2 separate regions of the Homo sapiens genome follow, and region 2 is linked to region 1. The links come from fine-mapping of genetic effects on gene expression. Tissue or cell type: tibial nerve. Region 1 holds a variant in brackets; the other region holds the start of a gene. All regions are shown on one strand. Distances are from middle to middle.

Region 1 (5,146 bases):
GTTATGATATATTATCCTGCATGTTATGATATGATATATATAGGATTGTATATCTGATATACATATAGAGAGAGACCTAGATTTAATTTACAAATACTTTGTTAAAGATTTTGGATGTATGTTCATGAGGGATATTAGTCTATAGTTTTTTTTTCTTGTAACTATCTTTGTCATGTTTTGGTATGAGGGTTATGCTGGCCTTATAAAATGAAATGGGAAGTGTTCCCTCTTCTATTTTTCAAAAGAGGCTTTGCAAGATTTGTTATTATTTCTTCTTTAAATATTTGCTAGAATTCATCAGTGAAGCCAGTTTAGGCCTGGGATTTTCTTTGTGGAAAGATTTTTAATTGCAATTGCAATTTTTTATTATGTATGAGGCTCTTCATATTCTGTTTTTTTCTTGTGTCAGTGGTATTTTTGCTTTGTTTTGTGTTTTAAGAGAGAGACTCATATATTATGTAAATAATGGAACAAACAAACAGATTTTTTAAAAATCATAATTAAAATGTTAAAATGTAAAAAAGATGAACAAAGTGTAAGAAAAAATAGTACCCACAGAAATATCTATATAAAAAATTAAATGGACATCTTATACCTAAAAAATACAGTATTAGGAATAACTCATTGCATGGGTTTAAGGGCAGACAAGAGCCAACAGAAAGGAGTAATAAACTTGATGAAAAAATAGAAAATATCCAAAATAAAGTACAGTGAGAAAATACAAAAAAAATTTAGAGCATTAGAGATAAGAGATAGAGCCTGTAATCCAGGCTGAAGTGCAGTGGTGTGATATAGCTCACTGCAACCTCGACCTGGGCTCAAGCGATCCTCTTGAGTAGCTAGGGCTACAGGCACACACCATGCTCAACTAATTTGTTTTTGTAGAGATGGGGTCTCACAGTGTTGCCCAGGCTGGTCTTGAGTGACATTTTATCTCAATTTTCATATTTAATTGGCATAAAGTTATTCATACTGTCCTGTTCTCTACCCAATGTCTGATGGATCTATGATGAAATTGTCTCTGCGTATTCTATATTTATTAGGTATATGTATCAGTTAGGTTGGTTGGTTAATTGGTTATTCATGTTATTAGTTTTCTTTTGGTTAGTGTTTATAGAGTACATTATTTTCATCTGTTTGCTTTTCTCTTCCTGTGTTTTTATATTTTGAGTGTCTTTGTATCTCAGGGCCCTCTTATAAACAAATATAATTGAGTTCTGGGGGTTTTTTTTGGTCTGGTTTGTTCATTTATTCCTACTGACTGTTTTACTTAATCCACCCTTCTTTAATAAAATTATTTATTTGGGTTTAAGTCAACATTTTGCATTTTGCTTTTTTGTTTTCTATTTGTCCAAGTTCTTCCTTATTTCTTTATTCCTCCTTTCTTGCCTTCTTTTGGATTAATCAAGTATGTTTTATTATTCTACTTCTCTCCCCTTAGCTTTTTAGTAATGCATTCTTATCCCTGATAATTCTTTAATTAATTGCCGTATGCAAATATGCATATTGGACTTATTAAAATCTACCTTAAATAAGTGCTCTAACTACTCCCAAATAATGCAAAATTCTTAACAAAGTTTGGCTCCATTTACTCTCCACTTTCATCCTCTGTGCTATTACTGTCACATAACTTATTAATACATATATTATAAACGGCACAAGCCATTTTTATTATTGTTTTAAATAATCAGTATCCTTTTGTATCAACTCACATGTTTACCCTTTCTCGTGTTCTTCATCCTTCCTGTAGTTTCATGTTTCCATTTGGAATGTCCTTCAGCCTGAAGAACTTCCTTTTCATTTTCCATAGTTAGGTCTGCTGGTGACAGATTCTCTCAACTTTGATTATTTGAAAATCTCATTATTTTACCTTTATTTCTGAAGGATATTTTCACTGGGTGTATAATTCTATCTTTGGTAGTCTGTTTCTTTTAGCCCTTTAAGGATACTATTCTACTTCTTCTTGCTTACA[C/A]AGTTTTATTAAAGAGCCTGCTATCACTCTTATTGTTGCTCCGGTAATGCTGTTTTTCTCTCTGACTGCTTTTTAAAATATATCTTTGTATTTCCTCCCTGTCTTTTATTTCATCTGTATTTCATCTTTTGTATTTTCAGCAGTTTGACAATTATGTGTTTTGGTATCGTTTTCTTTGTATTTTTCCTGCTATGGATTGCTGAATCCATAAGCATCCTGAATCTGTGGGTTGATGTCTTTCATTAGTTAGAGATTAAGTCTCCGCTGTTACCTTTTCATATATTGCTTTTTCTTCATTCTATCTGTCTTCTCCCTGTGGGATTGCAGCCACTCATATTTTGGACCTATTGACTGTGTCTACTTAATCTCTAATGCTCTAATATATTTTTTCATATTTTCTCACTGTACTTTATTTTGGATGTTTTCTATTTTTTCATCAAGTTTATTAATCCTTTCTATTGGCTCTTGTCTGTCCTTAAACCCATGCAATGAGTTATTCCTAATATTGTATTTTTTAGTTATAAGATGTCCATTTAGTTTTTTATATAGATATTTCTGTGGGTACTATCTACCTTTTCTTATATTTTGTTCATCTTTTTTACATTTTAACATTTTAATTATGATTTTTAAAAAATCTGTTTGTTTGTTCCATTATTTGGATAATATATGGGTCTCTTTCTATTGCCTGTATTTTCTCTTGATTACTGATCACACTGTTTTGACTCTGTTATGTCTAATAATTTTTGTAGTATGCCAAACGTTTTATATTAAAAGAACTATTGAGGCTCCAACTGGTATCTTCCATGAGAAAGAATTCTTCCTTTCCTCTGCTAGACTAAATAGGATAGGGCCTGATCACCTCAATCTAATTCTGGATTGAGTTAGACCACATCTGGATTGTGCCTATGGTTTATGCTTGTTTTTTGGACACGGACCCTCTTGGGCTCTTGGTTGGGAACCTAATTTCTAGCTCCTTAGCCCTGAAACACTGCAGGAGATTGTCCTACCCTTGAGAGGTCTGGGGCTTAGTTTTATTACCTCTCACCCCTTATAGTTTTAAAATATCTTTAAGAGGAGATCAGCCATGTATTTGGGGTATACTACCTACTTCTAGTGGAACCTTATCTCCTAAAACCACAAGATTATAGGAGATTTTATTCTGCCTTTTAAAAGCTCTCAGTCTAGCTTTGAAGTTCCAATGTGCTGGCCCAAAATTCAGCAGATACCCAATGAGAAAAACTGGCCACATGCAGGGGCTCCTTAAGTTTCCAGTTTGTCGCAGCAGCTCTCATTTCTCTTTCCTCCAGTAGAGCCCCTCACCACATGCCAAGCCTGATCCTTAGTTTATGCCAAAATTAGCAGATGCCCTCAGGAAAGAAAACAGTATCAGCTACCTCAGAGGCCACCCCTTGGAATTCCAGTTCATCTAATCCTCATGACAGCTCTGTGGTGTCTTCCTCATGACAGCTCTGTGGTGTCTTTTTAAATAATTACTCTGACTTTTTCTAGTTGTTGCATCGTTAACATTGTACTACCACAACTATCACTTCCTACCTGGAGGCCTAGGAAGTATTATCTTCTACCTGCCCTATATAATAGTTTATTAACTGGTCTCCCTAATTCTACTCTCGTCCCTCTCACAAAGCAGTCAGAGTGGTCCTTCTAAGTATATCTTGTCCCTCCCCTGCTCAAAACCCTCTAGTGGCTTCCCTTTATATTTAGAATAAGTTCAGTTCATTTTCACAGGCTGCAGTCCTACACAATTTTACTGCTACTCACTCTCTAACCTAATTTCTCTCTACCCTCCCCTTTGCTCACTCAGTTACAGCTCTACTGACCTCCTTTCCAATTTCTCAAACACACTAACATGTTCCTGTCTCAGACTCTTTGCACTTGTTGTTATACCCTCTCACATCTTCATAAGGCATTGTGCCTTTACCTCTTTCGGGAGCTCTGTGTAAATGTCATCTCCTCAAAGAGGACTTCCCTTAAAATTTTGTTTCCTTACCCTGCATTAATTTTAATCACAGCACTTAGCACTACCTGACATTATACCGTATATTGTGTTATTTTTTTAATTTTCTTTCTCTCTCACTAGGAGGTAAGCTCCATGAGAGTGGAAGTCTGGTTTGTTCACAGTTCTATCCCCAGAGCTTAGTACAGTGTATAACTTATAGTAAGTTCTCACTATTTGTAGGATGTCTTAGATATCCCTTACCTCAAAAAATTCTCAGTTTAAGGAAAAAATGAATAATTGGAGTAAAATTAAGAAGTACTGTAACATAGATGTCTACAGAATGCTTTGGGAGTAAAGAGAGGACACTGACCTAGTTGGGACATGGTCAGAGAAGTCCTCAATAAGGAGGTGGCCCTGGATCCAGTGTTGAAAACTGAGTATTGATATGTGTCTGACAAAGAGTAATAGAGAGCTCAACATATAAGGGCTACTAGAACATGGGGTTGGATGATAGGAAATGACATCAGTCATAATGGGAGAGCAAGATGGGCAGAGTCAAAAAAGTCCTTAGAAATCAGGTTAAAGAATTTAGACCTTACCTTAAAGGTAATAAGGAATAAAGGTTTTTAAGAGCAAAGATTTTTAAGGAGAGATGCTATCAGATTTATATTTCCACATGTTCCTCTACTCCTCACTGCAATAGTCAAACTAAAACTTCAAGTAGATTGATGTAGAAAATCCCTGGCATGGTTATCAGGGCTCAATTTTAAAACAAGTTCTTATCCCAACTCACTATGTAACCTGCGGAGGGCATTGTGTCTTGTTCTGAGCCTCAGACCTTCATTCTTAGCAGGACAGAATTACAGGTTTCTAAGAGCCCTTTCAACTCTGAGCCTATGATTCTATTAATATTTATATACTTCACCTTTGACTTAGGTCACAATATTTGTCTAAGGTGCCTTAGGAAGAAAAATTTAATATTTTTTCTGCATCTGCCAGAAATAATTTAAAACCTCCAATTCCAGCCAATCTAAATTCAGTCTTCTTCAGAGATTTCCTTAACATTTAGGTCAAATGCCAGGAAACCAGCTTCTTGGAACAAAACTACCTGAGCAGAAGTGGCAAGTCCTTTTTTTCTTCTGGCTGGGATGAGAATGCAGGGGGGAGGGAGGGTGATAGAATGAGTCTTTTTCTTGCAGTTGTGATTCCAAAGAATC
Region 2 (5,146 bases), 160 kb before region 1:
GTGTAGGACTTAATGTGGTGAAGGCTCTTATGTATTTCAATGCATCCCCCCCACACCCCGCAACACACATACTTTCTTTAAGCATCAGAAACCATCTTTCCCATTTCCTTTACCAACTCTTCTACTGGGTCATCAACAACATGAAAAAAAACAAAAACAAAAAACAAAACAAAAACTACTGTTTTTGTCAGTTCTGTCAGTGCCAGAATAATCACTCCTTTTTGCTGTAATGTAATGTAGAAAAGAGCAGACCTGGGGTTTCCTAGCATACCTCCTTTAAAAAAAAATTACATCCTGATTAACTTGCCTATTTCTTCCCTCTCCATTGCCTCTGTATTTCTTGGCTTCCCCACACCTGTAACCCAAAGGTCACAGGGTCTGTCATAGCCCAATTCCACTCTCCAGTTGCCTCTTGGTTTTTAACCCCCCTTATTAAAATCCAAACATTAAGCAACTAATAACACCCATGTGTAATTAGTTGTTTAATTGAACAGCACAGAACTGTTAATACATTATGCTGTGCCCTGGAATATTAAGTGGAATAAAAGCAAAGTACTATATTCAAGGAAACTACAGTCTGACTTAAAATACTACAATGGGAAACATTTCACACAGAGATTTTTACCAAGTGACAGTGGAGAGGAGGGAGAAATGAGTTCTTCCTGAGAAGTGTCAGAGAAGTTCTGAGCTGGATCTAAAAAAGAAGCAGGAGGCTGGGTGTGGTGGCTCACGCCTGTAATCCCAGCACTTTGGGAGGCCAAGGAGGGCGGATCACAAGGTCAGGAGATTGAGACCATCCTGGCTAACATGGTGAAACGCTGTCTCTACTAAAAATACAAAAAATTAGCTGGGCGTGGTGGCAGGCGCCTGTAGTCCCACCTACTCAGGAGGCTGAGGCAGGAGAATGGCGTGAACCCGGAAGATGGAGCTTGCAGTGAGCCGAGATCATGCCACTGCACTCCAAACTGGATGACAGAGCGAGACTCCATCTCAAAAAAAAAAAAAAGCAGGAATCCAAAGGACAATATGCATAATATTTATTTATTTTTAGCAGATGTGGGAATATCTCCCTCATGCCAAGCCTTATCTAAGGCTACAGGTGTGAATAAGGTTCCTGATCTCAAGACGCTTTCAGCCTAGAAAAGAGGTTTAGAAATATACTCCAATAATGGCAACATATATGGTGCCATGGACAGAGTTACAGAACAAACTGCTAGGGGAATTCATAGAGAAAATGTTCAAGAGAACATTTCTCACTGGACGTAGTAGGCAGAATTCTAAGGTAGCTTCCTAGATTAACCTTCATGTACACCTTCTGCATAGTCCCTGGGACAGTGGCTATGATGAATTTTACTCCTGTGATTAGGGTATGTGATGTGGCACAGGTGATCTTAAAGTAGGAAGATTATCTAGGTGGGTCTGACCTAATTACAAGTCTTTTAAAAGCTCATAGTGTTCTCTGACTGGTTGAAGAAGGGAAATCAGAGATATTTAAAGAATGAGAGGGAGTGACATGAGAAAGGTTCTCTGTTGATGAGATAAAAGGGATCACGTGGCAAGGACCTGAGAGTGGTCCCCAACAGAGAGCTGGCAAAACAGTGTAGCTGTGGGATCCTAGTCCTACAGGGACATGAATTCTGCCAACAGCCCGAAGGAGCCTGGGGCAGACCTTTCCCTCGTGGAGGTGCTAGACATCTTGATTTCAGCCTATGACACCACGAGCAGAAAACCCAGCCACACCATGCCAGTTTTCCGACCTACACAACTGTGAGTAAATCAATGGGTGTTGCTTTAAGCTGCAAAATTTGTGCCAATTTGTTATGCAGGAATAGAAAACTAATATGAGCACTTACAACACTGTGCTCTCATTAGCTATTGACATAATAGTTTCCCCAAATATGGGCTCCTTAGATTTAGGCTCTAATTATCCTTGTAACCTCAGGGCTCTTCATGAGACAGGTACTCCCCAAAACGCCATGGAATGAAAGTTTAAATTAGACAACAGGGATGCAGATCAGAACCTGGATAGATTCTGACCATTTCCATTTCTCAAGAATGGGCAGACGGATACTGACACCAATACCAGGATACAAGGAGGCGGCCCCCCTTCAGTCCAAAGCTCTAAGACCTATTCTAGAGGCAAGGCAAGTAATCCAGGCTCAGCTGCCCCATCTGCTGCTCCAGCCTTGCTTAAGTGGACTTCCCTCCAAGGAACATTGTTCACAGAAGGATCATTAACAAGACATTCCTGTGTGACCTGAGGATTGCCATGTTCTAAATGATGCCCACACCCACTCCACATCCAGCTCAGCAGAGGTCTCGGGATTTATATTGCACTGTATTTTCAAGCAGCCAAAACAGAAGTCAAGACGTCAGTTTCCTAAGCTGCTAAAATGATGTGGTGGTTAAACCAATTGTGTGCCAGGCGCAGTGGCTCACGCCTGTAGTCCCAGCGCTTTGGGAGGCTGACGCAGGAGGATCACTTGAGCCCAGTAATTTGAGGTTACAGTGAGCTATGATGGCGCCACTGCACTCCGACCTTGGGGACAAAGTGAGGCTCCATCTCTAACAAAACAAAAATAGAATTGTGTAGCCAACATGGCTGGTGGGCCTGGAAGAATGAGCCTGTGCATTGTACCTGGCCCATCACGGGCTCAGTGCGTACTCGTTGAAGGGATCACCACAGGGAGGACCGAGGACGCTGACACTCCCTAGGGCATCCAAGCACCAACTCATCTCTCACCTACCCTCCGGGTGCAGTGCTATCGTGTTGGAGAAGAGGCCCCTGGGTGGCTGTGCGAAGTAACTCGCCCAAGGTCACCACACGGCCAGCCACTAGCCCGGCGGGAGTCGCCCGAGGCGAGGCCCACGTCAGCCGGTCTTGGGGGCCCGACCGGTGGCTCCTCCACCAGCCCCACGCGGCCTCAGAGCGGGCTACTGGCGTCCTCGAGATTCGAACCCGAGTCCTCGGCCTCGTCCCCGCCCTCGCGCCCTCTCAGGCCTCAGTTTTCCCATCTACAGGACGCAGACCGGAGAGCTGGTCCGGGCGCCAACTGGGCCCCCGGACCCGGGTCGGCAGGCCGGCGGGGTACGGCCGGGCCGGGTTCCCGCGCGCCCTCCCTCCTCCAGCGCGCCGCCCCGCCCCCCGCGCGAGCCCAACGGCCGAGGCGCGCGCCACCTCGCAGCGGGAGGCGCGGGGGAGGGGCCGGGGGAGCCCCCGCCCCGCCCCCCGCCTCAGCCGCCACCGCCAGCTCGGTGGAGCCCCCCGCCGCCCGCCCGCCGCTCTCCCGAGCCGCCCGCCCGCCCCCTTCCCGCGTCTCCGCTCCCTCCCTGCGCAGCGGAAACATGGCGGCGGGAAGAGAGTGAGCCGCCCCGCGCCCCCGCCGCGCCCTCAGGTAAGCGCCTCGCGGCCGCCTCCGCCCGCCTAAGAGCTCGTGCCCTGAGGGGCCGCCTGGGGCCAGAAGGCGGTGGCGGGACCTGCGCAGCCGCTGCGCCTGCTCCCCCGGGCCGGGGTCAGCCTGTCCGTCTGTCTGGCCGGCCTGCCAGTCTGTGGTCCGCGCGGGGCTGGGCCCTTTCTCGGCCGTGTCAGCCCGGCCCCGAGCCCGGAGGCCGGCTCTGCATCTGCGGTCGGGCGGGCGGGGCCCACGGTCCGGTCGCGGCCCTGACGCCGCCAGGACTGCCCGGGGGCCCCGGCACGGGAAACCCAAGGCCGGGGGCCCTTTGGAGGGTCGGCGTGGGGGCGGTCCGTATAGGTCGCCGTGTCTGGCCGGCGGGGCCGGGTGGGCCGGGGCAGGCTGGCTGGGGGCCGAGGGCCGGGCGGCGGCGCGACCCCGTCTGCGCGGGTCAGTCGGTCCCCTCCGGCGCCAGAGGTGGGAATGCCTGTGATTCTGGCTGGCCGGGTCCCGGTTCGGGGAAGGCAGAGACAGAGGTCGACGGGGCGGCGTGGCCCCCACCGAGAGCTGGGGCGCCTAGGGCCCGGAGCTGTCAGCAGCGTCCTGGGGGCTGGGCCCCGGCTGGCCGACTCACGTGTGCCGCCTGCCCCAGTGCCCCGCCGGAAACGGGCAGGGAGAGCGGCCCCGCACCGAAGTGAGCCACAGCGGCCCTGGGGGCCAGACACGTGGGCACAGTTGTGTGCCAGCCCGAGAGCATCGAAAGTGGTATCCAGCCGATGGGTGAACCCCGGAATATCTCCTGACTGGAAGAGAATTTAAAAGTCATCTAGGGGCGCTTTCTCCCATCCCATGCCAAAGTGACTTTGAAAATCCCCAAATCCCCCCGATAATTTGACGAGCCCGTTTGGAACCTCTTCCAGTGATCCGAAGCGAATCTCTTTAAAGGAAACCCATTCTGTTCCTGGACACATTTGGTTATAAGTTGAAAGAAACAGCTGGCTCCCATCCTTCCTAGTTCTTTTCCCTTATGGGAAGCTGTTAAGATATCTGAAGATAGTAATCATGTCCCCTGAGTCTTCACTTCCACTTTCTTCAGTTGTCTCTCATCTGCTGTGGTTCTCTAAACTGTCCTCTGGATGAGCTTTAGTTTCCCCCATCCCCTTAAAGGAGAGTTTCTTAAAAGTGATCCTGGAGACAAAACGTAGTAAGTTTCTCTAAGAAACAGCCCCAAGGATTGACCTGCTTAAATCAAAAGTACTCTAGATTCCCTTCCTCATTTCTGTACTGTATTTTGAACTTAAAAAAAAAAAAAAAAGAAAACATTTAGTAGTGTTTGTTCAAACAAACTAAAAGACATCTTATTTTGTGGAAATTTGGGGGTTTCCTTCCTTTTAAAAAATGTCTATAAACACTTTATCAAATGTTGCTAACTAATGTACATCAAAATGTTTTGTTGAAGTGTAATGTGCCAGGCAAATAGAATAGCTCTTTTTTTTTTTTTAAACTCTGAAAAGGATTGAGACCTAGTTTAGTGCCAAACTGCAATTTTAATATTTGGTTGCAGAGGGAAATGCTTTATTACATTGAACTCTTTGCTCTAGTTCTAACTGCCAGCAGGAGGCCCAAAATTACTATGAAAGAGAACACTTTTTGTTGCTTACTTACCAACCTCCTAAACTCTTGCCTAAGCAACTCTGCAGGTTAGTAATGTTTTAAGCCCAGTAGAGATGAGATGGCCTTGTAGATAAAAGGCC

Alleles and levels. Positions count from the first base shown, and alleles are read on the strand shown. Sizes are in standard deviations (SD) of each study's normalised expression.
With allele C in place of A in region 1, the expression in tibial nerve of the gene that starts at base 3,148 in region 2 is lower (small effect, 0.31 SD a copy in GTEx).

The links. PIP is the estimated chance that this variant, and not a neighbour inherited with it, causes the effect.
Region 2: SCMH1 starts here. The variant in region 1 is fine-mapped to the expression of SCMH1 in tibial nerve (GTEx, PIP above 0.99). The same link has a PIP of 0.9 or more in aorta.

Annotation. Positions count from the first base shown.
Region 1 is chr1:41,075,434-41,080,579 of GRCh38, reverse strand. It overlaps SCMH1 (Scm polycomb group protein homolog 1), which reads left to right. Exons shown (of 16, transcript NM_001394311.1): 9 at 5,129-5,146. Among named protein-coding and RNA genes, the nearest start is that of SLFNL1, 56 kb to the right of the region's middle. The variant C/A (reference allele first, on the strand shown) is at 1,973.
Region 2 is chr1:41,240,308-41,245,453 of GRCh38, reverse strand. It overlaps SCMH1 (Scm polycomb group protein homolog 1), which reads left to right and starts at 3,148. Exons shown (of 16, transcript NM_001394311.1): 1 at 3,148-3,395. It overlaps SCMH1-DT (SCMH1 divergent transcript), which reads right to left and starts at 3,096. Exons shown (of 3, transcript NR_186015.1): 1 at 2,748-3,096. RefSeq lists silencers at 2,838-3,237, 3,278-3,827, 3,928-4,087 and an enhancer at 4,408-4,587.